2 separate regions of the Homo sapiens genome follow, and region 2 is linked to region 1. Evidence: fine-mapped expression QTL. A gene starts in region 1. The other region holds a variant in brackets. All regions are shown on one strand. Distances are from middle to middle.

The links.
Region 2: its variant is fine-mapped to the expression of ARHGEF10 in whole blood (TOPMed, PIP above 0.99).

Annotation. Positions count from the first base shown.
Region 1 is chr8:1,815,413-1,830,808 of GRCh38, reverse strand. It overlaps ARHGEF10 (Rho guanine nucleotide exchange factor 10), which reads right to left and starts at 6,883. Exons shown (of 29, transcript NM_014629.4): 1 at 6,696-6,883. MIR596 (microRNA 596) reads right to left here and starts at 13,578; the gene lies at 13,502-13,578. RefSeq lists enhancers at 183-1,098, 1,099-2,015, 13,611-14,278, 14,279-14,947.
Region 2 is chr8:1,843,653-1,858,421 of GRCh38, reverse strand. It overlaps ARHGEF10 (Rho guanine nucleotide exchange factor 10), which reads right to left. Exons shown (of 29, transcript NM_014629.4): 3 at 307-462. Among named protein-coding and RNA genes, the nearest start is that of ARHGEF10, 27 kb to the right of the region's middle. RefSeq lists enhancers at 13,664-14,769, 14,364-14,769. The variant T/CT (reference allele first, on the strand shown) is at 3,719.

The DNA.
Region 1 (15,396 bases):
TCTCCGCACCTTGTAGCCCCGTGTATGCCTTATTTCTCCACCTTGTAGCCCCGTGTATGCCTTCTCTTTCCGCAGCTTTTCATCATATTACTTTACTTCTTAAATCATCTTTCCTGAAGACAAGGGTGCCAGCCCCCCAGGGCAAGCACATGGTCTCTGCGGTTCACACCCTGCCTTGGGGCGTGAGAGCACTTAGTACTTAGCACGCAGCGGTATTCATGAAACACCTGTCTCTTAATAGGTCATTTCCAGATTTGCCGGTGCTTGTCATATGGCCACAGGTAGATTTTCTTCATGTGCAAAGGTTGTTTCTTTTTATAGAAGTTAAATCAAGTATAAAAACTTGATTCAAAAAACACATAAGCACAAAAGGGCACTAAACCTAAGCCAACAGAGAAAGGCCTCAAGGGACCAAGAAGGTGCTCGCAGGTGTTTGCACGGCCCCCGGAGGCTCCTGGCAGCCTGGATGCTGGACAGAAGCCACGCCCAGGAGTCAAGCGCCCACCAAGGACAGCCGCCTGGGCCCCACGGGAAATGAGCCGCCTGAGCCCCACGGGAAATGAGCCGCCTGCCACGCATGCCTGCGGATTGCAGTGGAAATCTCCCAGGATTACAGGTGCGCGCACACAGCCTCCCTCCCCTGCCTTCGTCTGATACTCCTCTTGTCACCAGGAGTCCTTGCCCTCTGGGGCCGTCTGCAGACAGAACGGAGCGGGGAAGTGGCTCTTTAGAGCAAGCGGGAGCTGCCTCCAAACTGCAGCCCTCTGACGGCTGGCAGAGAGCACTTCGGAGCCTGCACACTGGAGAACCTAACCCTCTCCTTCTTGCTACCGCTACCTATGACTCGCTCCCCAGATATTTTCATCAGCTGGCAAAACGCTGCACCTTTCATTCCTTCCTATTAAATCATGGAGAAACCTGCATGTCTAAACGCCATTCCAGGAGCAGGGTGCCTGCCGCCGTCCCAGCAGCCTCCCCGGGCCTCGCCGCGCGTTCTTCCTCCGCAGACCCCGGATTCGGGACCACGAATGCAGCGCTGCGCCGCCGTGCAGCGCTGGGCACCTATGACGCTCGTTTAGACTCCAGCTGCAGCTGAAAAGTGACCTATTCTACATAACACAGGACCACAGCTTCCAGAGAAAGGAATTCTCCTCAGCCCTGCTCTGCAAGAAGTGCCTCTGCTGGCTGAATGCAGAGCCCACACAAACGACAGAAAGCCACGAAGCCGCGGCTTCCGTGGAGGCAGCTGGACGTGGGTCAGGGCCTCTCGTGTGGGCTGCTTCCCACGGGCCTGCTGAGTCAAGTGCTTGAGAACAAAGCATGAGTCGACTTTCTTATCACTCCTGCAGCAAGCAGGCTGGCCAGGGTCAGGGGCTGGCTCCAGCCCTCAGCGGACTTCAAGCTGGCCCGGCCCACACAGGGCAACCGCCCACAGGCCTGGCCTTACCACGTCCCACTGGTTCCATGCCGCTGACCCCGCCAGGCTCAGAACTGCACGCACCATCAGGAAGACCCACCGCATTCCCTCCGTCACAGCTCAGCGCTTCTCACACAAAACATACGGAGCTTCTGAACCAGGAGGGTCATTAACTCTGGAGCTCCCTGGGTTGTGTCTACACGGCCCACGCAGGTATCCTGTCGGGACGACTCAGCTCAGGCCCGACATGAGTGCAACTGTGCAGGCGGGGAGCGCTCGGCCTGGCCGGGCTGGTTGGCCGCCCCCCAGGTGTGCTGGAGGCCCTGCCGCCTGCTTCCTCTCCAAAGCTCGAGGACTCCCCGTCCGTGTCCGCTCAGATACGCACTGAATACCACGCTAGCTTATGTAATGCTCTTTGGACTCACTTTTCTCATGTTCCTTACAGAAAATCAGACACTGCACTGAAATCACTGCTTTATTTTCCTTTCAGAAAAAAAAAATAAGCAAACGATAGAATAAAACAGTAAGTGCGCATGCCACAGTTTATCAAAATGTAATTCCTTAAAACCGTAAGTGTGCATGCCACGGTTTATCAAAATGTAATTCCTTAAAACAGTAAGTGTGCATGCCACGGTTTATCAAAATGTAATTCCTTAAAACCGTTAAGTGTGCACGCCACGGTTTATCAAAATGTAATTCCTTAAAACAGTAAGTGTGCATGCCACGGTTTATCAAAATGTAATTCCTTAAAACCGTTAAGTGTGCATGCCACGGTTTATCAAAATGTAATTCCTTAAAACAGGAAGTGTGCATGCCACAGTTTATCAAAATGTAATTCCTTAAAACAGTAAGTGTGCATGCCACGGTTTATCAAAATGTAATTCCTTAAAACCGTAAGTGTGCATGCCACGGTTTATCAAAATGTAATTCCTTAAAACAGTAAGTGTGCATGCCACGGTTTATCAAAATGTAATTCCTTAAAACAGTAAGTGTGCATGCCACGGTTTATCAAAATGTAATTCCTTAAAACCGTTAAGTGTGCATGCCACGGTTTTAAGGGAGGAAGGCACTTTAAGAGGAAGGCACTGCTCTTCCACAACATAATAACGACCACATCCAAGTGTAAGGGTCTGTTCCCCACAGCTGGACAACAAGCCACGGGCACAAAACAAAACAAAGAACGTGATCTCAGCACGGAAGCAACACCTACGACTTGCAGGAGCCTGACTCACCCCGACTCACCTGGTGCCGAAAAGGGCCTCGGCTGTCTGTAGCTATCAGTGGAGGCAGAGTGTTGAGGTACCACAACCATTCCTTCTGTTTTCTTCATTAAACCCCCACTGTGAGTCCCCAGGGACTGACGGTCATTAAGATATTGGAACCTAGAATGGCCAGATTGGTAACTAGCCAATGCTGATGCAGCCAGGCCTATTCTACGCAGACAGCCATGCATCTCTACATGTGCCTGTTAACAACCTGCATGCTTCCCCATCGCTCCCTCACAAGGGCCCCCGCACCAGTCACAGCTCTGGATACCATATTTTACTTTACACAGTTATTTCCCCTATCAGAAGTGACCCATGGAAGAGAAAAACTTTGAACCCAAACATTTTTAAAAATATTTTACACCTTTTTCACATCATTTAACAAAAATATAAAATACCAACAACCCCCATATAGCACTTTCTACTGGCAGGCCTGCTTTACTCTAATGATACAACAAAAAGCAGGAAATGGCAATGATGGAAGGAAAGGAAAAATCCACGATTTAAAATGATCATTTTGACGGGGCATGCAGTGGCTCACGCCTGTAATCCCAGCGCTTTGGGAGGCTGAGGCAGGTGGATCACTTGAGGTCGGGAGTTCAAGACCAGCCTGGCCAACATGGCAAAACCCGTCTACTAAAAATACAAAAATTAGCCGGGCACGGTGGTGGGTGCTTATAATCCCAGCTACTTGGGAGGCAGAGGCAGGAGAATTGCTTGAACCTGGGAAGCAAAGACTGCAGCAAGCCGAATCTCTCCACTGCACTCCAGCCTGGGCAACAGAGTGATACTCCATTTCAAAAAAAAAGATCACTTTTTTATCAAAATTTGGAAAACTACTCACAGAAAACAAACAAACAGAACCAAAACCAATGTCCAAACCTGACAACTATGAACAGGCTGAAGCAGAGTAGGGTGGCAGATGTGGCAGAAGTGTGTGTGTATCAGCGTGGGGGCTGGTGGCAGGGCATTCTCCCTGGGCCCCTTTGCCACACCTGTCCTTACAGGTAACCCTGCCCCTCCCTAGACGGACCTGGGGCTGTGGCCCTGTCTGCCACCCAGGCAAGGACCCCTGCTGGTCACCGGCCTCTGCTCTCCCTGCCTCTCAGACCCTTGGCAGCCCCTGGGCCTGGCCCACCCCTTTCCACTGCAGAGCTCCCAGAACCTTCCAAAATTACACTCCCAGAAAGCCTGGTTAAGGGAGAGAGCTGAAGTTCTCCCTCATGAATGACTAACAGCTACGCTTCCCTTCTGTCTTATTTCACGCCACTTACCTTTCTACCCAGGCAAACTATAAGCAACGCACGCATGAAACACAGATTCTCTGAGCATCTCCAGATCCGAGCTGTTCTTTGCATGCTTCCTGCCACACACTGTGCAGTAAACAATGACGGGCCTACAACAGCGCTTTCTTACATCTCACTATGACGTTTTCACATCGCTTACAGAATACAACCGTCATTAGCGCATTTCCAGTTTGCTCTAATTTATGCCAAACATCTTTGTTTTAAGCAGCACTTCCCCATACAACGCCTTCTAGCAACTTCGTAAGTGAGCACCCTCAAGTCCCGTGAGAAGTCTGGACTCACAGGGCCAGGGAAAAGCTTCCCCACCTCAACCCAGGTCTGTAACTCCACACCCTCCACACCACCCAACGCCTCTATCTACAACTCACACACGCGCACACACACACACACAAAGCGCACACACACACAGCACACACACAAACACACGCACACACAAACGCACACACATGCATACAAACACAAACACATACACAAAGACACACGCACACGTATGCACACACAAACTGCAGAGGAAAGGCAGCACACCAAAGCACCCAGAAGACAAATGTGGTTACATCTGGAAGTCAAGCATCAACTTTTAAAAACATAAAAAGCTATTCTGAATAACTTTTAACTTCACTTCACCCCCAACTGTCTACAACTAATGAATTACAAATAGCACCTTATACAAATGACTTTTCTTACTGCTGAGAAATCCTGGAGGTCTCATCTGTCTATAAAGAGTTATGCATCCGTAACTGCCGATGTTGGCTGCTAAAGCCAGCAAATAAATGCTGTGAGAGACAGACAGGGACAAAGTGTGTTTTTAAAAATACATGACGTGTAAACCTCAGTAATCATCTCTCTTTTCGAATAAAAATTATTTTCTATAAAGCAGGTGTTCAAAACATATTATTAATCAGCAACAGTGAAATTGTTCCTCCTTGCAGCATTCCACCCATATGGACATTAAGTCACTCCTGCACAGAATCTAGAATACTGACCAGTCCGTACTCAGGTTATGGTTAACCAGAGAAAAGAATTAAAACCCGTTACATCTTGAGTCAATGAGAATTTTTACTTGCAGCCAAAGTTAGTGACTGGAATCAATATCAGACAACAGCAAGTTCGTCTACTGCTGCCTGGGAACATGACCTACTGGCCACAGTCGGGAGGGGTACTCAGACCTCACCTTCAGTGCCCAGGGGCCCATGGAAGGGGAGTGGGGCTGGGACAGGTGGGCAGGGCGTCTGTGGACCTAGGGCAGTTTCCTCAGAATCTACCTTGGCTTCTTGGGCACCAGCGGGCTGTGGGGTGCAGGGGAACAGGTGGAGTACGGGGGGGACAGCTGGGGTGCGAGGGACAGCTGGGGTGCAGGGTAAACAGGTGAGGTGTAGGGGGACAGGTGAGGTGCAGAGGACAGGTGGGGATCAGGGGGACAGGTGGGGTGCAGGACAGTTGAGGTGCAGGGGACAGGTGGGGTTCAGGGAGAGAGGTGGGGTGCGAGGACAGGTGGGGTGCGGGGGAACAGGTGGGGTACGGGGAGACAGGTGGGGTGCGGGGGGACAGGTGGGGTGCAGGTGAACAGGTGGGGTGCGGGGGACAGGTGGGGTGCGGGGGGACAGGTGGGGTGCGGGGGGACAGGTGGGGTGCGGGGGGACAGGTGGAGTGCGGGGGGACAGGTGGGGTGCGGGGGGACAGGTGGGGTGCGGGGGGACAGGTGAGGTGCAGGGGGGACAGGTGGGGTGCGGGGGGACAGGTGGAGTGCGGGGGGACAGGTGGAGTGCGGGTGAACAGGTGGGGTGTGGGGGGACAGCTGGGGTGCAGAGTAAACAGGTGGGGTGTGGGGAGGACAGGTGGGGTGCGAGGGGACAGGTGGGGTGCGGGGAACTGGTGGAGTGCAGAGTTAACATGGGGTGCTGAGGGACAGGCGGGGTACACGGGGTGCGGGGAACTGGTGGGGTGTGGGGGGACAGCTGGGGTGCAGAGTAAACAGGTGGGGTGTGGGGAAGACAGGTGGGGTGCAGGGGGAACAGGTGGGGTGCGAGGGGACAGGTGGGGTGCAGAATAAACAGGTAGGGTGCGGGGGGACAGGCGGGGTGCGGGGGAATAGGTGGGGTGTGGGGGGGACAGCTGCGGCGCGGGGGACAGCTGGGGTGCAGGGTAAACAGGTGGGGTGCGGGGGGACAGCTGGGGTGCGGGGAACTGGTGGAGTGCAGAGTGAACAGGGGGTGCTGAGGGACAGGCGGGGTACACGGGGTGCGGGGAACTGGTGGGGTAGGGGGACAGGTAGGGTGCGGGGGAAAGACGCCGGCTTTCCTTACACCGGTCCTTCTCTGCATCCTGAGGCGGACCGCATTCTTCTCCTTTACCGGAAAATCTAAGTTACTGCACGACCCCCCAGGCGAAGCCAGCTCGCCCCTCGGGCTCCTTCCGCCGATCGGAGTTCGCTCCTGCCCCTGGGGCCAGGGGTCCCTGCTGCCAGTCCCTGCTCCCCCCGCCCAGGCCCGCGCCGTTATCCTGAGGGGCCGGGGGCGCCGCGGAAGGGGGAGCTGCTCGGGGGGAGGGGGTCTCAGCCCCTTCCCTGAAACATCTGCGCAGGGGGTCGGGGGCGCAGCCACCTCCGGGTGGGACCCAGCGATTTCGGGGGAGCCGGGCAGAAGTGCAACTCTCAAAGGAAACCAGAAGCCCGCGAGGGGACCCACGGTCCGCGGGGCCCGCACTCACCTCGGCGGCCAGGACGCGACCCGCAGTCCCCTGCTGTTCCCCGCCGTCCCCCGCTGTTCCCCGCCGTCCCCCGCTGTTCCCCGCCGTCCCCCGCCGTTCCCCGCCGTCCCCCGCGTCCCCCGCGTCCCCCGCGACCCCGTCCGTCCCGGATCGCGCGCCCGCCGGCTACAGGGATGCGCCCAGCCCCTCCCGCCCGGACGGCCTGCTCCACCCACCATGCTGTCATTGGCGGGCCCAGACCGTTCCGGGCGCCCATTGGCCGCAGAGCCTGCCGGTTTCTCGGCAGCGCCCTGCCCTCGCGCCCGCGCATTCCTTCGAGGCCACGTGGCCGCCCGCGCCCCCTCCCGCTGCCCAACGCCCGGCCCAGGCTGCGCACGCGTGGGAGGGGGCGCGCGGCAGAGGCTCCCGCCCCCGGATCATCTCCTGCCCCGCGGACCCCGGGCCGCGCTCACTTCGGGAGGGGTCGCTGGGCAGACCGAGTGCCCTCCCCGCCCCCAACATCTGGATCCTCCCCGCAGAGCCTGCTCCCGGCTCAGAGCTGCGCCCCTTGGGGAGGGTGCGCCGGGCAGACCCTAACCCTCTCCCAGAGCACCGCCCTTTCTGCGGACCCCCACGGGCTGAGCTCACCTGAGGGAGGGGGCGTCGGGCAGACGCTCCCCCCCCCAGAACATCGCCCCTCCCTGCGGACACCCGGGGTGCGCCCAGCCGAGGAGGGGGCGTCGGGACCCCACCCGACCCGCCCTTGAGCCCCCGTCCCTCCGTCCGCAGCTGGCCCTGCCCACAGGGCGTTCCGGGTCTTCCGCGCCAGCTGCCCTGGACCAGCCAAGGCTTGGGCGTTTGGAAATGCGATGACTTCAGCCACGTTTCCGAGGCAGTTTTTGAAGCTTGCTTCTTGCCAGGAAGCGCTCGTTTTTCCCGGGACCTTTCCAGGGAATGGCCCCTTCTGAGTTATTGGAATTGTTTACTTTGAGCATTTATTTGTCTTATACTTTTAAAAAGGAAACAGATTATCGTTATAATTACTATTAAAGAAAAAAAAAAACGAGAAACAAAGACATTTTTAACCAAAATAACTAAAGGATGTTATCTTTTACCTGGTCAGCACATTTAACAAGTGTGTTCGCAGATGCTAGATTTATTTCTATGCCTTCTCCTACCCAAATCTCCGAATCATAGAAGTAATTTTAAGTCAGTGTTTTAGAACTGTCAGACTTCTTAGAGATTTCTAGCCCCTTTCACTTGTTTTATAGAAGAAATACAAACAGCTATTTGGGATGCTAAGTATCACGAAATTAATCTAAACATTAACTGCCCTTAAGGCTTGTGTGCTCTGGAATAAGTTATTTCCCTGAAAATTTTGGACTATGTAAAAATCATAGCCAACATAGAAAGACTACAATGGCTGGAAAAAATAATCGTAGGTAAGGTGATATTTTTTCAATGTTTATTATTCACACTTGCTAATTTTATGAAATCAGACTGAGTTGTTTTTATGAATCAATTGAAAAAGGTATTTGCTCTCAGCGACCTTAAGATTAGAAAACTTATTTCAGGTTTCTATTCCTAGGGTTCTCTGGGTACCTTATTCAGAGATCTTCTGCACAGATCAATGGTCAGATCAATGGTCTTGATCAACAGAAGTAAGAAGGTCAACTAAATTAGTTCTTGTTTACCTAAATACGATGAGAAAATCCTGATACTTGTAGTGTTTTCTAAAAAGGTAGAGATAAGAGGAAATAGTCCTGTGTATGGAATAAACAACTCATTTTCTCAATGGATGAAATTGAGCCCCTAAACTCAGGGCCGCCAGGGACACCACTGAGTAGGGCCACAGAGCAATGCCTTCCAGGCAGGTTGGGCAGAAAATCCCCTGATTTGGAGCTCCAATAGATCCTGTCTGTCTGCTTTATTCAGGCGTTCCTCACAGATACATCCCTATTTTCGTAAGCCCGGATATGGAAGAGTTGGGATTTTCCATTGTGATTCCCTCTTTGACCCATGGGATATTTAGAAAAGTTAGGTTCACCTTTCAAATATATGGGGACTTTCTGGTTTTCTTTTTATTGTAACTAAAGTTTAATTCCACCGGGCCTTAAAACATCAGCTGTTTTATTTTTGTCGTTTAAGATTTTCAAACACTTGCTTCATGGCCCAACATTGTCTATTTTGGTAAATGTTCTATGAGCACTTGCTGAGAACATGCTTTCACTGACATAAAGTTCTACAGATGTCAATTAGGTCATATTTGTTACTGATTTTTTTATCTACTTGTACTTTTTATCTACTTGTACTTTTTATCTACTTGTACTGATAAGGGTGTATGAAAATCTTTGACTCTCCGTAGTCTATTCAGCATTGTCCTGCAGCATCTAACAAGTGTTGTAGGTCATAAAAACAAAAAGTGTAAGGATTGAGGGAGGAAAAACTGATTATTTACAGTCAATATGATTATATATGTTAAAAAACAAAATTATCTACAAATAAACTATTAGGATTAAAATAGAATTTAGGAATTTCAGATGGATCATAGACTTAAGTGTAAAAATTATAAAGTTGCTAGGATAAAATATAAGAAAAGATCTTACGGATCTTCAGGTAAGACAGAAAATGGACCGACCATTTAAAAATGATTAAATGGCTTATCAAAATTTAATATTTCTACTCATCTCATGACATCATTAAGAAAATGAAAAGGCAAGCCACAGACTGGGAGAACACAGGGGCAATGCATATATCCCACAAATGGCTTGTCTTAATCCACGTTGTGCTGCTGTAACAGAATACCTGGGAATGGGTGATTTACAATGAAAAGAAATTTATTTCTCACAGTTCTGGAGGCTGGGAAGTTCAAGATCAAGGAGCCACATCTGGCAAGAACCTTCGGGCTGCATCATCCCATGACGGAAGGTGGGAGGCGGAGGTGGGGAGGGAGGATGCAAAATGGGCCAAACTTATCTTTTTTTTTTTTTTTTTTGAGACGGAGTCTTGCTCTGTCATCAGGCTGGAGTGCAGTGGTGCGATCTCTGCTCACTGCAACCTCCGACTCCCTGGTTCAAGCTATTCTGCCTCAGCCTCCCGAGTAGCTGGGATTACAGGTATGTGCCACCACACCCAGCTAATTTTTGTATTTTTAGTAGAGACGAGGTTTCACCCAAACTCATTCTTTTATAAGGAGCCCACCGCCTCAGTCATGGCATTTATCCATCCATGAGGGTCATACCCCCATGACCCAGACACCACCTAGTAGGCACCTTCCAACACTGCTGCATTGGGGGTCAAGTTTCCAACACATAAACTTTGGGGAAAACGCGTTCAAACCATAGTCCTGGTAAATAGAGAACTCCTGCAAATGAACAATAACAAGACAAGTCTATTTCAAAAGGGACAAAACAATATAACAATAACAAGCCTGTAAATAACAATAACAAGTCTATTTAAAAATAAACAAAAGACGTAAATACTTCACCAAAGATGTACTGATAGCCAACAAGAACAGGAAATAGTGCTCAGTGTTACCCAAAGTAAACTCACAATGAGATGCCACCACCGTCATCCAAGCACGGCTGAAACTGCAGACCGACATGGCAAGGGTAAAAATGTGGAGCCCCTGGAACCACTATACAAGGCGATGAGAGTGCAAATGGCGCAACCACTCTGATTAATTGTTTGCCCATTTCTCAGCAATCCCACTTTTAGGTTTGCCCAAGGCAAGTGAAAACATAAGTCCCTTAAAAGACTTTTACAGCCAGACATGGTGACTCCCACCTGTAACCCCAGCACTTTAGGAGGCCAAGGTGGAGGATTGCTTGAGCCCAGGAGTCTAGCATGATAGTCTCCACCTCCAGTCCCAGCTACTTAGGAAGCTGAAGTGGGAGGATCGCTTGAGGCTGGGAGGTCAAGGCTGTAATGAGTCATGTTCACCACCACTGCACTCTAGCCTGGGTGGACAGAGCAAGACCCTGTCTCAAAAAAAAAAAATGATTTTTACAAGAATTCTTTCTTCAAAACAGTTCAAATACTTCGCAACTGGAAACAACCCAAATTCCATCAACAGGTGAACTCATAAAGTATTGTATCTTCATAGAATAATAGAATACTAATAATACAGTAATAAAAAGGAAGAAACTGATATGTTCAATAACAATGAATCTTGAAAACATGAAAAACATAGACAAAAGGGCACATATAGTATGATTCAATTTTTATGAAATTCAAGAATGTGCCAAACCAACCTATAATAATAGGAATCAGAACAGTGGTTATTTTTGGGGGTATTGTCTCAGAAAAGACAAAGGAATTCTGGGGAGTGATGAAAACGGTGACTACATCTTGATTTGATTTGCAGACACATGGGTGTGTTCACTTTGTAAATAGAATCAAGCCGAACACAAGAGTAAGCTACTTCATGGGATATATACAGTGGCCTCAATGCATCCCCCTTGATGACTGAAAGTTCATCACCAACGTGATAGCAGTAAGAGGTGGGGCCTTGAGGAGGTTAGTGGGTCATGAGGGATGGGCTTAGTGCCCTTGTAGAAGTGCCAGGGGGCTGTTCACCCCTCCTACCAGTGAGGGCACAGTGCTCAAGGTGCTGTCTTGTGAGCAGAGACCAGGCTCTCCCCAGACACTGAACCTGTTGGCACGTTGATCTTGGACTTCCCCACGTCCAGAACTGTGAGAAATAAACTCCTGTTGTCTATAAATGACCCAGTCTCTGGTGTTTTGTTACAGTAGCAGGAACAAATTAAGTTATGTATCAGCAAAAAGGGGTTTTAAAAGCTGGGTTCCTTTAAAAAAATAATGATTCCCTTTATTGACGGAATACAAAATATCCCTTAATTAATTGCAAGCAAATTAAGTGCAAGGCCCATGCAGAGGGTAGGGATAATCTATACCCTAGTTAGGACATTCAGAAAGGAAAAAAATGGCAAAGACAGCCTGCCTGGTTCTAGGCCTCGCCTCTACTCCAGAGACGTCTCCATGCCCCACGCGGAGCGGGTGCGTGAGGTCAGCTCTAGCAGGGCCTAAAGGCCTGGGCTCTATCATCAAATAGGCCCGGGGGCTTCTGCCTCTTTTACCACTATATGGATGAACATGGGCGTCATTCAATGTCCTGGGCCTCAGTCTCCTCACTGAAAACAAGAGCAAAACCTACTTAGGCAGCATGAAGACTCAACACTTTCATGTGCAGAGACCGGTGTCAGGGCACCTGACCCCATGGACATCTCGGGGGAGCCTGAGGCACTGTCCGAAGATGGAAGCTTGTATCCACTCCTGGGCACAGTTCCTGGGTTCACATCCCAGGCACTTCCCTTACCAGCTGTGCTATCTGCATTGCTGTGCCTCAGTTTCCTGCAAAGAATTGGAAAGACATTCGCACCTACTGTGCGGGTCAGTTTTATATGTCACCTTGACCAGGTGACAGTCCCCGGTAATTCATTCAACATGGGTCCAGATGTGGCTGTGGAGGTGTTCTGTTGGTGTGCAAAAGACCCATCACAGTGGACTTTAAATGAGGAAGACTATGTTAGACAATCCGGGTGGGCCCGATTCAGCACTGGAAAGGCTTTCCAGAGAAGAAATTCCGCTGTGGGCGGTAGCTTCAGCTCTGCCCCAGGTCCAGCCTGCCCTTCCCACGGCCTGCCTGCCTGGACCTCGCTCCCAGGCCCCCATCGTGGTGCCGGATCCAGGCTCTAAATCTCTCCAGGTCTGCCTCCTACTGGCTGAACCTTGGCTGAGGCCACTTGTAGGATGGCGCCATTGAAAGGGAGATGGCATGCACACATCTCAGAACTACTCCACTCCGCAGGCGGGGAGCGAGACACTGAGCCCGGGGACGGCGAACAACCCTGGATGTGAGACCTCAGACAAGTCCCTGACCGTACTGAGCCTGCTATCTCGTGGATACAGGGTTAGTCACCAGTCCCTGGCTCTGGAGCGGCGGTGAAGATGAAGGCATCCTGGGTGCACCTGGCGCTCTGCCTGGCCCACAGCGCACGTGGGGCAGACCTCAGGCCGCAGTCACGGGGCTGCTCAGGTGCTGCGATGGGAGAAGAGCCAGGAAGTGAGTCTCCACCCAGTGCCGCTCAGTCACGGGACCCAGGTACAGCCTGGCAGAGGACAGACGGCGCTCCAGGGAGACCCTGGGGCAGCGTGGGGCTGGGGTGGGGCTGTCACACGGCAGAGGCCCTGGGCAAGTGCGGAGGCCACACGAACATGGGGTGCAGGGGGTACATGGAAATCAGAGGCCCCCTTCAGGCCTCTCAGCCTCCCAGCCTCGAGCCATGAGTTCTGTCTGGGCTCACGCAACCCCAGACGTGGCTGAAGAGGCTGGAGTGTCGACGAGCGCTGGGAAGAAGCTGCCGACCTCACTGCTCCGCGCCCTGCCTTCCCCTCCCTCCTGCCGTCCCCAGTCACCCCGAGGCATCACCCGGCCGGGCTCCCTGGGGCAACACATCCGAGAGCCCCCAGCAGGCCACACCCCTCCCAGCGCCTGTCCCCACAGGGGGCTCGGGACTTACAGGGAACAGTACAGCCTGGGGGCCATCGCAGATGCCCTCCAGGAAAGCAGGATGCTCTGCAGATAGGACGGCTGTGGCCGCTGCCCCAGGAAACAGCCCAGGACGCTGCCTGAGCTCAGAGGGTTCCGGACACAGACCGCGCTCCCCGCTTTGCAAACCACACCCAGTCCATTTCCTAGTGTGAGTTTGTCTCTACTCATCGGTTTGTGTCTTTATAAGAGTTCTAAAGTAAAACAAAAACACACAAGGACAGTGACCTAGACAGCACCCAGGGATGGGTCGGGTCGGCCTCCGAAGGGCAGCAGCTGCCATGCGGGAGGCAGGTTCCCGAGGAGCCGGGCAGGCTTCGGAGAGGCCGTGCTCGCTTTCCCGACTGTGGCGACGGATCCACCTGCTATGCGTTCCTCAGAACTCACTGAACCGCCCACGTTAATGACGCGCAGTTCGCCGTGTGCCAATGACGCCTCAATCAAGCTGCTAAACGAAGGCCGGAGCAGCCCTGCCTGTGGGGCTGTAATGTTTTCTGCAGCCTTGATGAGCCGCCCTGGGCTGTTTCAAAGGGAACGCAGCAGTCTCCTCTTGACTTCCGCAGTGGCCGTATTCCTGGGCCGTGCGGTGGGTGTGTCTGCAGGTAAACAGGGAGTATCTAGGCTCGGATGGTTACAGACGGCTTTCCCCGTGGGCGGCGTCCCGTGGGCCCTATGCAAGCTGCGCAGGCCGCCCTGGGCTCTGCCGCGAGTGCGTGGGCGGCAGGACGGTGCATCCCGGGCCTCCACCGGTCAAATGCTCCACACTGACCACCGCAGCACCCCCCCGCTCTCCCGGGCAAATTCTAAAGCTTCCCTAGCGGGGAGTTCCTGCTGGGGAACTTTCTCCATCCGCCCTCTTGGACCTCACAGGCTTCTTCCGCCTTCCCAAACGGACGCTGCACCCCGTCTCGTTAGAACGCTGCACCCCATCTCGTTAGAACGCTGCACCCCGTCTCGTTAGAACGCTGCACCCCGTCTCGTTAGAACGCTGCACCCCGTCTCGTTAGAACGCTGCACCCCATCTCGTTAGAACGCTGCACCCGTCTCGTTAGAACGCTGCACCCCGTCTCGTTAGAACGCTGCACCCCATTTCGTTAGAAAGCTGCACCCCGTCTCGTTAGAACGCTGCACCCCATCTGGTTAGAACGCTGCACCCCATCTCGTTAGAACGCTGCACCCCATCTGGTTAGAACGCTGCACCCCATCTCGTTAGAACGCTGCACCCCATCTCGTTAGAACGCTGCACCCCATCTGGTTAGAACGCTGCACCCCATCTCGTTAGAACGCTGCACCCCATCTGGTTAGAACGCTGCACCCCGTCTCGTTAGAACGCTGCACCCCGTCTCGTTAGAACGCTGCACCCCGTCTGGTTAGAACGCTGCACCCCATCTCGTTAGAACGCCGCCATGGCCTGCATGTGTGTCCGCTCCAAATCTCATGTTGAAATTGTATCCCGTGTTGGAGGTGCCTCCTGGTTGGAAGTGTCTGCGTTATGGGGGTGGGTCCCTCGTGAATAGATTAATGGAGGGGCTGTGAGTGACTTCTTGCTGTATTAGTTCTGTGAAAGCTGGATGCTAAAAAGAGCCTGGCACCTCCCCCATGCTTCCTTTCTTTTCTTTCTTTCCTTCCTTCCTCCCTCCCTCCCTCCCTCCCTCCCTCCCTCCCTCCCTTCTTTCTTTCTTTCTTTCTTTCTTTCTTTCTTTCTTTCTTTCTTTCTTTCTTTCTTTCCTTCTTTCTTTTCTTTCTCTTTCTCTCACTCTCTCCTTCCTTCCTTCCTTTCTGTTTCTTTCGACGGAGTCTTGGTGTCTTGCTCTGTCGCCCAGGCTGTAGTACAGTGGCACGATCTGAGCTCACTGCAACCTCCACCTCTGTGTTCAAGCAATTCTCCTGCCTCAACCTCCCAAGTAGCTGGGATTACAGGCATTTACCACCACACCTGGCTAATTTGTGTATGTTTAGTAGTAATGAGGTCGTGCCATGTTGCCCAGGCTCATCTCAAACTCCTGACCTCGGGTGATCCTCCTGTCTAGGCCTCCCAAAGTGCTGGGATTACAGGCATGAGCCACCGCGCCTGGCCGCCTCCTGCCACTTTCTCTCTCTGATCTCTCCGCGTGCCGGCTCCTCTTCCCCTTCCACCGTGAGTGGAAGCAG
Region 2 (14,769 bases), 28 kb before region 1:
AGGTACATCATGAAGAAATCATAACTCTCTGGCTCCTAGAAATCATCCTTTCCCTACAATGTTCCAATTGGGCCGTAAGAATGGGGAGAAAATCGGCGAGTCCGATGGCTGAGCACAGGTGACCCTGATGCCGGTGATCTGCGGACTCACCTGGGAACCCCCCAGGGGACTCACCTGGGGACCCACCTGGGGACTCACCTGGGGACTCACCTGGGAACTCACCTGGTGACTCACATGGGGACCCACCTGGGGACTCACCTGGGGACCCACCTGGGGACTCACCTGGGGACCCTCCTGGAAACTCACCTGTGGGTGCAGGGGCTTCACTGGCTCCAGCACCTCCTGTCTCAGGGGCGGATGGGGCCTGTCTGTCCGCTTCTGGGATTTCATCTCCACTGTCAAAATCGAACTGTTCTCCCTCTTCCTCTTCATTATTATTGGTATCATATTTCATTTCATTTTCTAAAAAGAAAAACCAAAACCACATCAAGGAGAGATAGATAGATAGATAGATAGATAGATAGATAGATAGATAGATAGATCGATCGATCTATGTTAGCCAGAGACACTGACTAAGTTCCTCTGTGCTGTACTGCGCTTGTAGTTAACCTTTTTAAGGGGCAAAATAAGTATCATTAGAATTCTGAGTCACTGGTTTTTATTTTCTTTTAATAGGATCTACAACTCACAGAGAAGAAACAAGAGGCTGGGGGTGGTAGCTCACATCTGTAATCCCAGCACTTTGGGAGGCCAAGGTGGGCAGATCACAAGGTAAGAAGCTTGAGACCAGCCTGGCCAACATGGTGAAACCCCATCTCTACTAAAAATAAAAAAATTAGCCAGGCGTGTTGGCGGGCACCTGTAATCCCAGCTTCTCAGGAAGGTGGGGCAGGAGAATGGCTTGAACCCGAGAGGCGGAGGTTGCAGTGAACCGAGATTGCACCATTGCACTCCAGCCTGGGTGACAGGGCAAAACTCTGTCTCAAAAAAAAAAAAAAAGAAAAGAAAACAAGAGAAAGTAAGGGGAAAAAAGAGCTTTTCACATTTTAAATCTGTGCACCCAGCAGATGAACATCACCCGGCTGGGCTGATGGTCTGGAAGAGAATTCAGTATCATCCACTTTACTTTTAGAAATAACTTCTGACACCTTGCATCTCTCCCTAGAATTCTTCTCCTTTTATTTTCATTTTGCCTCTCTTATTTACAATTTTAATTAAATATCTCTGATGGTTAGAAAATCAGTGTCAAATATGAACACCGATATATAGCTTAAAATACAAACCTCCATAATTATTAAAGAGCATGGTTAATAACTGTTCCAAGTAAGTGCTTGATAAGAAACATTTTGCAGGAGGCGAGTCACAGGTCTCCTTGGACCGGGGTTACGGCTGATGGCGCAGCCTGCCGTGTGCATCATTTGCAGAGACGGCGTGCTAGGACTGTGTGCCACCATCAGAGCAGACAGGTGCTTCTCCTTTTTCCAGAGGAGACCCATGTGCTGGGACAACACCACCCGGCACACCCAGGAGCGAGAGGAACCCAGCCCCTGCCAGCCTTTCCCAAGGGCTGGGATTTCTTCCCAGCACACGTTCCTGAGGAAACCTCCTGCTGCCATGCCCGGCAATCCACAGAAGCAGGTGGCACCTCGGGACAGAGCCTGGGTCAGCCCAAACCAAGCCCCTCCAACACAGACAATCCCCCGTGGGCCAGGGAGATGCACCCAAGCAGGACGGCCCAGCTCGGCTGCAGGCAGCTCCGGAGGGGGCTGAGGGGGAGCCCTGCTAGGGAGCAACCCACAGACACACAACCCACTTACACTCCACGCAGTCTCCAGGCGCTCTCTGCCGAGCCTCCTGGGGAAGTCGCCTCCCGGGGAACTCTAGCGGTCTAAAAACAACCTTTAAATTTGAGGTGTTTCATTTTCCTTTGAATCTCCTAAACTAGTCATACATTCTAGGAGTGCCTTTTGAAGGAAACAGATTTTTAGGTCACCACAAATACACAGAGGGGCCCAGGCCCACGACAGCGTGAACTGGATCCAGCTACCACTGCAAGGACGGTGGGGATGAGACCCCCAGCTGACCATGACACCTGGGGACCCCACGAGCTTTCTGGAACTGCTTCCACCAACACTCACGAGTTTTACAAGTATGAGAATGACAAATACTAAAATTGAATCAAGAAAAAGGATTCAGAAATGTGTTATTTTTAAAACATACGTCTGATAGGAGTGTGTGTTGCTGTCCTTCTGGATGGTGAACTCTGCTCTGCCCAGATACCAAAGCCTCACCCACTTCCTAGAGGGTCAAAGACTTCTCTAAATTCAAAGTTTTGAATTTAAGCCTAATCAAATGAAACAATCGAAGCAGGGGGAGAGCTGGAATGGACAGAACCGCTAATTTCCAGAGTTTGAGCCTTGTTAACTATGTACTTTCAAACCAGTCCTCACTGTCTCCCAAGCGACCGTAAACAAAACCTATTTCAGAAGGGGTTTTTTTTTTTGCCATATCATTAAGTAGTCAGTTTATGGAAATGAACTGGTGAATACCTTTTAAAGTAAAAAGTTAAACAAACAAAAAAACTGTTTTCTGGAATATTTTCCAAATGCAACTGTCATTTCCACAGAATTCACGTTTGGGGAGAAAAAATCATGTTTGCCAAATAAACGTGCTGCGGAAACAATGCCGACTAAATGCCGTGACGAAAATGATCAGTGAAAATGTTTATGTATTGCTGGGCGCAGGGGCTCACACGTGTAATCCCAGCACTTTCAAAGGCCAAGGAGGACTAATTGCTTGAGCCCAGGAATTTGAGACCAGCCTGGACAACATAGTGAAACCCCGTCTCTTAAAAAAAAAAAAAGGTACAAAAATTAGCCTGGGGTGAAGGCGTGGACCTGTGGTCCCACCTACTCCGAAGGCTGAGGTGGGAGGATCACCTGAACCCAGTAAGCGGAAGTTGCAGTGAGCTGAGATTGCGCCACCGCACTGCAGCCTGGGGGACAGAGCAACACCTTGTCCCCCACCCCAAAAAAAGTTTCTGTTCTGACCACCCCAAAAAAAGTCACTGCCAGGCACATGTTCAGATTCATCCAGACGGTGACACAATCACACTAGATTTTTATATTGTCAACTCTCTTTTTTGGAAATTATAGTTTACTACCGCTGAACTCAAACAATTAGATAAAATACACCTAGACATGAGTCTATAAATATTGTTTTTTAAAAAAGCTTGACAATGTCTGGTACAAAATAGGCTCTCAAATATCTGCAAGGGGAGAAACATGAGCTGTTGGGACCGGAACCCACACTGTACCCCATACAGGAAGAAGGAATTCTCTTTAAAGTCTTCAGGAAGGAAGGCCGTGAACAGGAGCCCGTGTGTGCAGGAAACAGCCCTGAGGAGACACCGAGGCCCCTCCACTCCCTCCCCATACGCCACCTCCTGGGCTGTGACACCAGCCCCGGGAGACCGGTGGGATTACCTGGGACAGTGCATGTCCCGTGTGCCAGGTACAGGTATGACCCTGAGAAGAACCGCATGCGTTCTCGGAGCCGGCACCTCTGCTCACCGCCCAGCAAGGTGCAGTGGGAAACCTGGTTGGCGGCAATGTGTGACACGCACATCATGTGAGCGAATGAATGAGAGAATGACGAGCAGATGAGCAAGCTTCAAACTGTTTTTTGCCAAAATAACTCACTTTTTCCCCTAGTAAAA[T/CT]TTAAGTAGAATTCTACTATACAAGGGAAATCAAAGCAATCAAGAAATTCCTCCAAAAGTTTAAATCTTGTTAGTTTAGACTTGGAGGGGCTTGGAAGGGGCTTGGGGCTTGGAATTCAAGAGCTCTCTGCTGTCATTGAAAGACTGGCAGACACTGGCGGAGCTGCCCTCCATCCTCTGCAAACACTGCAGGGAAAGACTTTCAAGTTATATAGACTCTGCAGAATGATGTGTGTTACAAATTCCTCTCAGAATTCAGTTCCAGTAAGAAAAAAATAGCCTTTCTACAAGAACTCAAAGAAGTTGTGCTCAATGTAACCACCTGAGGCTGCACCCCTGCCTGCATGGGTGCCCACAGCTGTGCCCACGGCGGGCGCCCAGGACAGAGGGCGAGGCCGCCTGGAGCTGGGCTGCTCCTCTGACCCCCACCTCCAAGGGGGCCTCCATCGATGGTGAGGCTGCGCCGCCCTCTGAGGTGAGCATGGGGCCGGGCGTTCAAGGTGGTGTGTGCTGAGCATGTCCATCCCAGACACTGCCCTGGGCCCTGGGGGATCCTGGGCATCACAGACCCCACCCGAGCTCCCCAGGTCCCTTAGTGAAGTGCAATGCAGAATGCCTTTAAAAATCCCAGCATTTGGGGTCCTAAGTTTAGTTCTGACACCAGCCCTGACAGGTTCAATTGTGTCCCCTAAATCCCTGTGCTGAAATCCTCACCCCCAGTCTGCTGGTGAGCTCGTCTGCAAACAGGTGACTGCAGGTGCAATTGGTTTACAGGAGGCTGTGCTAGAGCAGGCTCGGCTAACCCAGTGTGGCAGTGTCCTCATGACAGCAGAGGCCAGCACAGGGACGAGGAGCCACCTGGCAGTGCAGCTGCAGGAACTCCCGGGAGTGCCCACAGCCGGCGGGCGCTGGAAGAGGCAAGGAAGGCTGTGACCTACATTCCCGGGGAGCACACACAGCCTGCCAGCACCCTGACCTGGGACTTCCGGCCTGCAACCCAGGAGGCTCCCCCGCAAGCTCGGCCAAGCCCTTTCCAACACAAAAGGTCCTGTGCCATCCTCAGGGCCCTGGCGGGAGCCAGGCAAGCTGGGCTGGGTCGGTTCCCACAACACTCCTGCTGCAGCCACAGAAGGAATTCCCGCTTCTCAAAACCCCAGCTTCAGAACCCAGCCATTCAGCTGAAGGAGAACACTGATGAGAAAAACTACAATTTGCAAACTAGAAAAGATGCTCAAGGGCTGCTGAAAGCATCTCAGGAGATACAACGTGTTGTAGTTTGAGACGACATGGATCTTTCAAAAAGCTGTTGGGGAATCTGCAGTGTAGCCGTCATTCGCTGGACACACCATGGCCCAGTGTTCTCCGCCCGTTGGTCCCTGTGGAGCCCAGGAGGTGGGCGGGAAGGGCCCGGCGCTCTGGGTAGGCAGCTGGCAGGGAAGCAGGGAAGGGCGGCCTGGGCAGGGCTGCACCTAGGGAGAGGCTCTGTGCCCCTCCTGCCCACTCAGGACGGCAGGTTCTGAGAGTCACCCATGAAGGCCATGACACGGAGGAGGAAACACAGACGGCAGTGCAGCCCGTGCCGACCCACAGGCATCCAGCCCAAATCTAACCACCCGCCAGTGCCCGGCCCAAATCTAACCACCCGCCAGCGCCCGGCCCAAATCTAACCTGGGGACCATTCTTCCCCTGCCCCTCTCCTCTGGCCTGCCCAGGACAGGCTGCCCTCTGGCCACAGCTGCACTTCCCAGGAAAACTGCAGGCTCTGCTGCATTCAGGGGCCAGCCCTTGTGGGTCACCGGCAGCTTGACACGACACCCCTAATGCTGACCGACAGCAGCAGCCATTTAAGCCTCAGGATTCAGACTGTTTCCGTCACAGCAGGGCCATTGGGGCTGCCTTGGTGGCACTGACTTCTTACCAACCTGACTTTTTACACTTGTGAGTATGCAGGTAATTGGCTCATCAATTAAGGCACACATTTCTAAAACAAGTTATGAAATAGAAAACTTTAAGAAACATTACGTTTCCAATCATTATGACATAATATGACCATGCCCATTTTAAGTTATGCCTATATGCAAAAAAGGGCGAGGAAGTTACCTGACAATCCAATCTTCGAAATGCTGCTGCTAGAAAAGGTGCTGCTCCCGGGTTCTCTCCAGGATGATGGAGAGGTTCTAGAGGGCCCTCAGGACAGAAACGGTGCTGCTCCCCGGTCCTCTCCAGGATGATGGAGAGGTTCTAGAGGGCCCTCAGGACAGAAACGGTGCTGCTCCCCGGTCCTCTCCAGGATGATGGAGAGGTTCTAGAGGGCCCTCAGGACAGAAACGGTGCTGCTCCCCGGTCCTCTCCAGGATGATGGAGAGGTTCTAGAGGGCCCTCAGGACAGAAACGGTGCTGCTCCCCGGTCCTCTCCAGGATGATGGAGAGGTTCTAGAGGGCCCTCAGGACAGAAACGGTGCTGCTCCCCGGTCCTCTCCAGGATGATGGAGAGGTTCTAGAGGGCCCGCAGGACAGCTCAAGTCACACATGGCTATTGCACTTGGGGTGGCCAGTGTGACCAAGAGCCTCAGTTGTTGTTGTTATTTAATTCTTATCAATTCTAAGTTTTGTAGACACCTGAGCCTAGTGGACCTCGCAGGCCTGAATCTCGAGCTATCAAGACGGCTAACGGCCTGTCTGAGCCTGAGAGCCGTCCCCACACCCACAGGGCCCCTCTGCTTGTGTCTGTCTTCATATGGTCTGCAGCAGAGATTCATTTCCATTTGGTTATTAATTTTTTTTTTTTTTGAGACAGAGTCATGCTCTGTTGCCCGCGCTGGAGTGCAGTATTGCGATCGCAGCTTACTGCAGCCTTGACCTCCTGGGCTCAAGCAATCCTCCCACCTCAGCCTCCCAAGCAGCCAGGACTACAGGCATGAGCCACCACGCCTGGCTAAGTTTTATTATTTTTAATAGAGACGAGGTGGCACTATGTTGCCCAGGCTGGTCTCAAACTCCTGAACTCAAGTGATCCTCCTGCCTCGGCCTCCCAAAGTGCTGGGATTACAGGCAAGAGCCAACGTGCCCACCCCAGTTTGGTTGCTTTTAAGAGATACAACTTTTTAGAGCAGTTTTAGGTTCACAGGAAAATTGAGAGGAAGGTACAGAGAGTTCTCATATACTCCCCACCCCCAAAGAGAGCCTCCCCCAACACTATCCCCCATCCTTTGCCAGAGTGGAACACTTGTTGCAACTGAGAAGCCAACACTGAGGTACGTCACTAACTAAAGCCCACGGTGTGTGTTAGGCCTCGCTCCTGGTGCTGTGCCTTCTGTGTGAGGAGCCAACAATGAGGTATGTCACTAACTAAAGCCCACGGTGTGCGTGAGGCCTCGCTCCTGGTGCTGTGCCTTCTGTGTGAGGAGCCAACACTGAGGTACGTCGCTAACTAAAGCCCACGGTGTGCGTGAGGCCTCGCTCCTGGTGCTGTGCCTTCTATGGGTTTGGACAGGCGTGTAATGATGTTGAGGTACGTCGCTAACTAAAGCCCACGGTGTGCGTGAGGCCTCGCTCCTGGTGCTGTGCCTTCTATGGGTTTGGACAGGCGTGTAATGACATGGATGCACCATTATCAAGGAATTTCGTGGCCCTAAAAATCCCGTGCTCCGCCTGTCACCCCTCCCCCCCGCAAACCCCTAGCAACCCTGAGCTTGTTACTGTATAATTTTGTTTTCTAGAATGTCACGTGGTTGGAATCGCACCGGGCGCAGCCTTTTCAGGTTGGCTTCTCTCGCTCAGTAAGATGCATTTAAGGCTCCTCCATGTCTTTTCACGGCTTGGCAGCTCATTTCTTCCTAGCACTGAATGTTCCACTGTCTGAATGGGCCCCAGTTTATCCATCCATTCACCTCCTGAAGGACATCATGGCTGCTTCTGGGTTCTGGCAATTATGAATAAAGCTGCTATCAACACCTATATGGGCAGGTATTGAGTGGACATTAAGTTTTCAACTCATTTAAATAAATACGCCGGGGCATGGCTGCAAGTCACACGGTAAGAGTGTGCTCAGGTTTGAAGAAGCCACCAAACTGCCCTCCCACGCGGCTGCCCCACGCCCTCTAGCCACCCGCCAGCACCCGGCCCTCCTCAGCATTTGCCGTCTGTGTCCACGCAGCTGCCCCACGCCCTCCTCAGCATTTGCCATCTGTGTCCACGCGGGTGGCCCATGCCGTCTTCCGCACTTGCCGTCCATGCCCACGCGGTTGCCCCACACCCTCCTCAGCATTTGCCGTCTGTGTCCACGCGGTTGCCCCACACCCTCCTCAGCATTTGCCGTCCATGCCCACGCGGCCGCCCCACACCCTCCTCGGCATTTGCCGTCTGTCCACACGGTTGCCCCACGCCCTCCTCAGCATTTGCCGTCCATGCCCACGCGGCCGCCCCACACCCTCCTCAGCATTTGCCGTCTGTGTCCACGCGACTGCCCCACGCCCTCCTTAGCATTTGCCATCCATGCCCATGTGGCCGCCCCACGCCCTCCTCAGCATTTGCCCTCTGTGTCCACGTGGCCGCCCCACACCCTCCTCAGCATTTGCCCTCTGTGTCCATGCAGCCGGCCCACGCCCTCCTCAGCATTTGCCCTCTGTGTCCACGCAGCCGGCCCACGCCCTCCTCAGCATTTGCCCTCTGTGTCCATGCAGCCGGCCCACGCCCTCCTCAGCATTTGCCCTCTGTGTCCATGCAGCCGGCCCACGCCCTCCTCAGCATTTGCCCTCTGTGTCCACGCAGCCGGCCCACGCCCTCCTCAGCATTTGCCCTCTGTGTCCACATGGTCGCCCCACGCCCTCCTCAGCATTTGCTGTCTGTGTCCACGTGGCCGCCCAAGCCCTCCTCAGCATTTGCCCTGTGTCCACGCAGCCGGCCCACGCCCTCCTCAGCATTTGCCCTCTATGTCCACGTGGCCGCCCCACGCCCTCCTCAGCATTTGCTGTCTGTGACCACGTGGCCACCCCATGCCCTCCTCAGCATTTGCCATCCATGCCCACGTGGCCACCCCACGCCCTCCTCAGCATTTGCCGTCTGTGTCCACACGACTGCCCCACGCCCTCCTCAGCATTTGCCGTCTGTGTCCACGCAGCTGGCCCCACGCCCTCCTCAGCATTTGCTGTCCATGCCCACGTGGCCGCCCCACGCCCTCCTCAGCATTTGCCCTGTGTCCACGTGGCTGCCCCACGCCCCCCTCAGCATTTGCTGTCTGTGTCCATGTGGCCGCCCCACGCCCTCCTCAGCATTTGCCCTCTGTGTCCACGCGGCCGGCCCACGCCCTCCTCGGCATTTGCCTTCTGTGTCCACGTGGCCGCCCCATGCCCTCCTCGGCATTTGCTGTCTGTGTCCACGTGGCTGCCCCATGCCCTCCTCGGCATTTGCTGTGTCCACACGGCCGCCCTACGCCCTTCTCAGCATTTGCCGTCTGTGTCCCCGCAGCCGCCCCACACCCTTCTCAGCATTTACCATCTGTGTTCTGGATTTTGGCTATTCTAATTTGAAGTTAGTTTTAAGTGCTCTTTTCTTAATGAGCAAAAGGGTACAAATAAAGTATCTAAGTTTAGTTTAAAATTTAGTTACCCTCTGCCCGGGGTGGGGAGCGGTGTCTAGGGGTGACCAGCACTGACTGTGTGATGGTCCTACATGCTTGTGAATACAGTAAAAGCCACGGAGCTTTACAAGTTAAATAGGTAAACGGTACTAAGATATGAATTATATCTTAATAAAGCCATAAATAAAAAAACTTAATCTCTCACTTTAAATAAACTATACATATAAAAACAAGTGCTGCCTAGGTTTGTCAGGGAAAAAAACTGCTAATGTTTGAAACATAACCATGCAGATACTATCACTTATATTAACGGCATTTAAAAGTTTGCTTCAAGGGGAAAAAAAAAGACTACTTCTAAAACACTGGAAGAATATTCAATAAAATTTTAACAGTACTAATCTCCCAGAGGTGAAGTATTTTCTTTTTCGTGACTTGTCTATATTTTAGTTTTTATTCTACAATTAACATGCATTGTAATTTTTTTAATTACCCAATTTAGATTATAAACTGTAAAGTCATTTGTAGTACCTGAAATGTAGCTTCCCTACATTTACATAGTGAATACATTTAATAGTGAATACAACATTCACTGAATAAACAACAAACAGAAACCACGACACACCCATCGCTGCGCAGCACATCTCCCATCCTGCTGTGTTATTCTGAAGCCCCCGGACAAATCTACACAAGAAATGCTAAGTACAGAGTCGTGGATTAGAGAACGGCTTCTGGAGTCGGAGAGCTGAGTTCAAACTTTGCTTGCTGGCCACGAGACCCCATCCCTCGTCTATAGAAAGGAATCACAGAATGGAAAGAATCCCTCCCTGGGGCATGTTGCAACAAGTAGGAAACGCCGTGTGGCGCGTACAAAGCCACTTAACCTGAGGACTAAGACGGAGGACCCCGCGTACCTCTTTTTACAGAGATACTGAAGAGAGGACGACAAATACAATATGCACGATGCAAAAGAAGACGCATAGAACACTTCAATTTTCTGTTTTCTTTAGCGAAATATTTATTCTACAAGCTACCAAGACCTGGTGGCTCTGGTCCCAGCACCCTGAGTGGGAGAGAACTGGCCGCCAGCCCTGGAGAAGCAGGCCACCCATTCCCGGGCCACCTTCCCTCGTGAGCAGACAGCGCTCTGACTGTTCCAAGTCCATGAAGAACTTTTAAAGACATGCAACGATTAACACACTGAGAACAAGATTAAAGTAATACTCATTTTTTAAGATCAGAGATAAAAGCTAAGTGTTACTTTTCCTGGGGCTTGGAAGAGCATGTTTGATTCTCATATGAAGGTTTAACTCGGGATATGATTTTCTCTTATTTTGAATGAAGGCTGTTTGTGTTTTAGCTCTATTGTTTAAAGAAAAGTCCTTTAAAAAGCACCAGGCTGCAAACAGCTTCAGCCACAAGAGGCTATTCATAACCACTTCTTGGCTCTGGGTGTCACTGCGGTTTGTAGCTGCTTGTGCTGAAGGAGGCCTCCCCAGAAACAGTGCCATCCCCCAGAAACAATGCTGCCCCCAGAAACAAAGCTGCCCCCAGAGACGATGCCAGTGTGAGTGCTGGCGTCTGTCTGAGCTCATTATGGAAGTTACCAGGTATTTGGTAAATGATTTTTTGTGAACCAACATTAACATGCCAATTGTACTTATTTCTTTTGCCCTAATGTAATTTGCATTGGAATTTTGCTACTAATTAGAGAAAGGCTTTAGCTGGCAGTGTGACTTGTTTTGCATTCTGAGAAATCCCAGATCATCTTCTGAATGGATTTGCTGAGTGCTTACCAGCTAGGTCTAAGTACTTCATAAATGCTAACTTGTCAAATCCTCCCCAAACTTATGAGAGGGGTTCTGTTTTTTCCAGGAATGACAGAAATTGAAGGCTGCTTAGGTCATCAGCTCACACACCTCAGGGTCAACATTTGAACCCCAGCAGCTGGGCAGCAGAGCCTGAAATCTTTCCTGGTGCACAGGCTGCCTCTCCAACACCACTTCCCCTTGTGATGACCTGACGTGTTGCCAAAGACATTTCTAGAGAAGGCACAGGGACCTGGTAAAGGTGAGGAATGGGCATGGACTAAAGAATGATTCCACTGGAACACACAACAGCACCCCTGCCAGGAGGCCCCAAGAGCAGCCACTGAGGAGGACACTTACGAAAAACGAGCAGCAGCCTGAAAATACTCACAAACACAAATGTTAACGCGGTATAAAAACCTACACTCAAAATGTTAAAAATCAGGCCACATGTGGTGGCTCACGCCTGTCATCCCATCACTTTCGGAGGCCAACGTGGGCAGATCACTTGAGGTCAGGAGTTCGAGACCAGCCTGGCCAACACGGTGAAACCCTGTCTCTACTAAAAATACAAAAATTAGCTGGGCATGGTGGCAGGTGTCTATAATCCCAGCTACTCAGGAGACTGAGGCAGGAGAATCCTTGAACCCGGGAAGTGGAGGTTGCAGTGAGCCAAGATCACACCACTTCACTCCAGCCTGGGTGAGAGAGCGAGACTCCGTCTCAAAAAAAAAAAGTTAAAAATTTATATTCAATGACTACAATTATGTAGAAAAGAAATATGGGGAAAAAAACCAGAAAAGTGATGATCTAAAGTAACAGCACCAACTGTGTCCCCACGCAGGGAAGAAATGAGGTCGCAGTAACTTCCTGCTGGATCCTGATCTTCAGGGGCACTTTTAAGTGGACGGTTGACTTAATAATGGGGGAAATTATAATTAAAGTACCACAGAATCCTCAGAAAAGACACCAGGCCATTATCCCTATTTCTATTTGTCGTAAAAGTTATTGGCTAGAAACTCACCTAAGTTTCCAAGCCAGAGCACTGTCATTAAATGGTGGCTTTCTGTATCAAAGACCAAGGTCATGTGGCCTGTCAGCAAGGGCAGGGGCCTCGCTCCCAACCCGCCAGAGGGCTGGGCGGCTCCTCAGCCCCTCCGCGGCTCCCGGGCTCCCGCCAGGGTCTCCCGAGGACACCCTCCTGGGTGAAATGTTAACAGTGGCGAACTGTGGAGAGCTCCACATTCCTGCAGCCTGGAGCTAGTGACCAGCCCTGAGGCTGGATCCAGTAGCCTTGGCCCAAGGACGGCCTGGCCAGTCCAGCTGCACCCAGAGGGCGTGGACCTGTCATACTCTCCCCTGGGTCGAAATCTGGGCAGAGGGAGGGGCTATGGAGACACCCCCAGCCCCAGCAGAGGAGTGTCCTGCTGCAGGGAACCCTGGGCACCCCCAGTCCTGCCTCCATCAGAGGCCACATCTCTGATTAGCACAACTACACACAAAGTGGAGTCCTATGGGCCCAGGAACCTTCTTCAGAAGCCAGTTCTGGTCGTGGAGACCATGGGTGGATGGGCATTTCATGCAATCCAGGTGGTGGTACCGCTGGGCAGAGCTCCTCAGGGTGCCAGGCACTAGCCAGGACTGATGACGACGTCAGCAAATGCTGGAGATAAATTTAATGAGAAAACGGTGTTTCCGCCTTCTTTGAAACAGAGGGCAAAACAGGGTGAAAGGCAGCATCCATCTGCCACGGGATTCTGAACGGGTCCTACGTCCTCCACGCTTACCTGCAGAGACAGCTTCCTGGCCTTTCTTTCATTTTTAACTTTCCCCAACAACTGTACCCGCCTCCTCAGCATGTCAAGGCACCATATTAATGGTGTGCCATCTTACATGTGTGTGGGAAGGAGGGGAGGCAACAGAAAAGCACGCAAGCTCTGGTGCTCACCCCTTCAAACAGAAAACTATCCAAGACAACCACTCATTTCCAAGAAATGCCAAAAAGAAAGCAGGGAGGCGGGAGGGGGCCCCTGGAGGGACAGCCGCCCAAAGTGGGCCCGTGGAGGGTAAGGCCACAGGATGACGCCCACTGCCCTGCTCTGCTGGGGCATCATCTCATTTGATAGGAATGAAAAGCAGTAAAAGATTTTGCTCTCTGCCTCATGTTCCACCTTTATTTTTTAGACAGGGTCTCAGTCCCACCACCCAGGCTGGAGTTCAGTGGAAGGATCTCGGCTCACTGCAGCCTCAACTTCCCGTGCTCAAGTGAACCTCCCACCCCAGCCTCATGAGTAGCTGGGACTACAGGCATGCACCATCATGCATAACTAATTATTATCATATCATTATTTTTGCAGAGATGGGGTCTAATTATTACAACTATTACAACTAATTATTATTACATTATTATTCTTTTTGCAGATATGGGGTCTCACTACGTTGCCCAGGCTGGTCTCAAACTCCTGGGCTCAAGTGATTCACTCACCTCAGTCTCCCAAAGTGCTGGCATTACAGGTGTGAGCTGAGGTGCCCGACCTCATTTTCAATTAAAACAACCTAGTCTGGCAGAGCCTGAATGCCAGCAATCCACACGTAAGTGAACTGTGGCGACAACGAGCACCATGGCGACAAAAAGGCAAGGAGACCGGCCGACGTCACCCCCAGAAGAGAAGCAGTGGAGCTGTGGCCTCGGGTTTCCGGTACCGGGTCCCGTACCCCGTGGTCTTGCGGCTCCGGAGAACTCCAGGAGCTGGACTTCCAGGCCTGGTTCCCCACCGCAGACCCCCGGCAGCAGGAGTGGGCATCCCTTCTGGCCCCTGTGGTGTCGCTGGCTGTTTCTGGGGTGGCCACTGCTCACCCCTGGATTCTCCCGTCTCTGTCGTCCAGCAGGCCCCGGTGACCCCTGGATTCTCCCGTCTCTGTCATCTACCAGGCCCCGGTGACCCCTGGATTCTCCTGTCTTTGTCATCTACCAGGCCCCGGTGACTGACTTGCTTATGAACAGCCTGACTTCCAGGCTGCCTCTTTTCTGATCCAGCTACAATCTCTGAGGGCCCAGAGTGTCCACGTAGTTGGGGGGCACAGACGACCAAATCCCAGCATCTCCCAAGACCCACACCCACAGTGCCAAGGGGCCTGGAGCCCACACAGTTAATTCCGTGACCTCCACAGCTCCATCACCCCCCAGACCTGCAACGGACACCAGGCCCATGTGCAACATGTGGTCCGGCAGGCCCCGGGAGGACCTAGGCCAGGTCTCCAGGCCCTGCAGACGACCTGCCATGGAAACGTCGGTCAGTGTCCACCTTCTCCACTGGCCGGAGCGCGAGCTGGCAACCCTGGCATAGTCTTTTTGGCAACAATTTAACTCAGGTGAGGTGACAATGAAGATAAATCTTTCATCAGCAGGCCCTCCCTTATTGGAGCATATGGATAGAGAGGGCGTGCTTGTCCCTGAGCGGCCGCTCAGAGGAGGGAGGCAGAAAAGGAAACTGGGCGAGCACCCGCCATGGGCGAGCTGAGCTTTAAGCCTGAGCGAGGCCTTCAACACTGGAAGGCGCCATTCTGTAACAACCCTCCCGCTCCATCTCCGATTGCATCAGGCTAAGGGGAATCTTAAGGGAATTTCAGATGCTGACCATAGGTCCCCAAGAGCAATACAGCAGCAC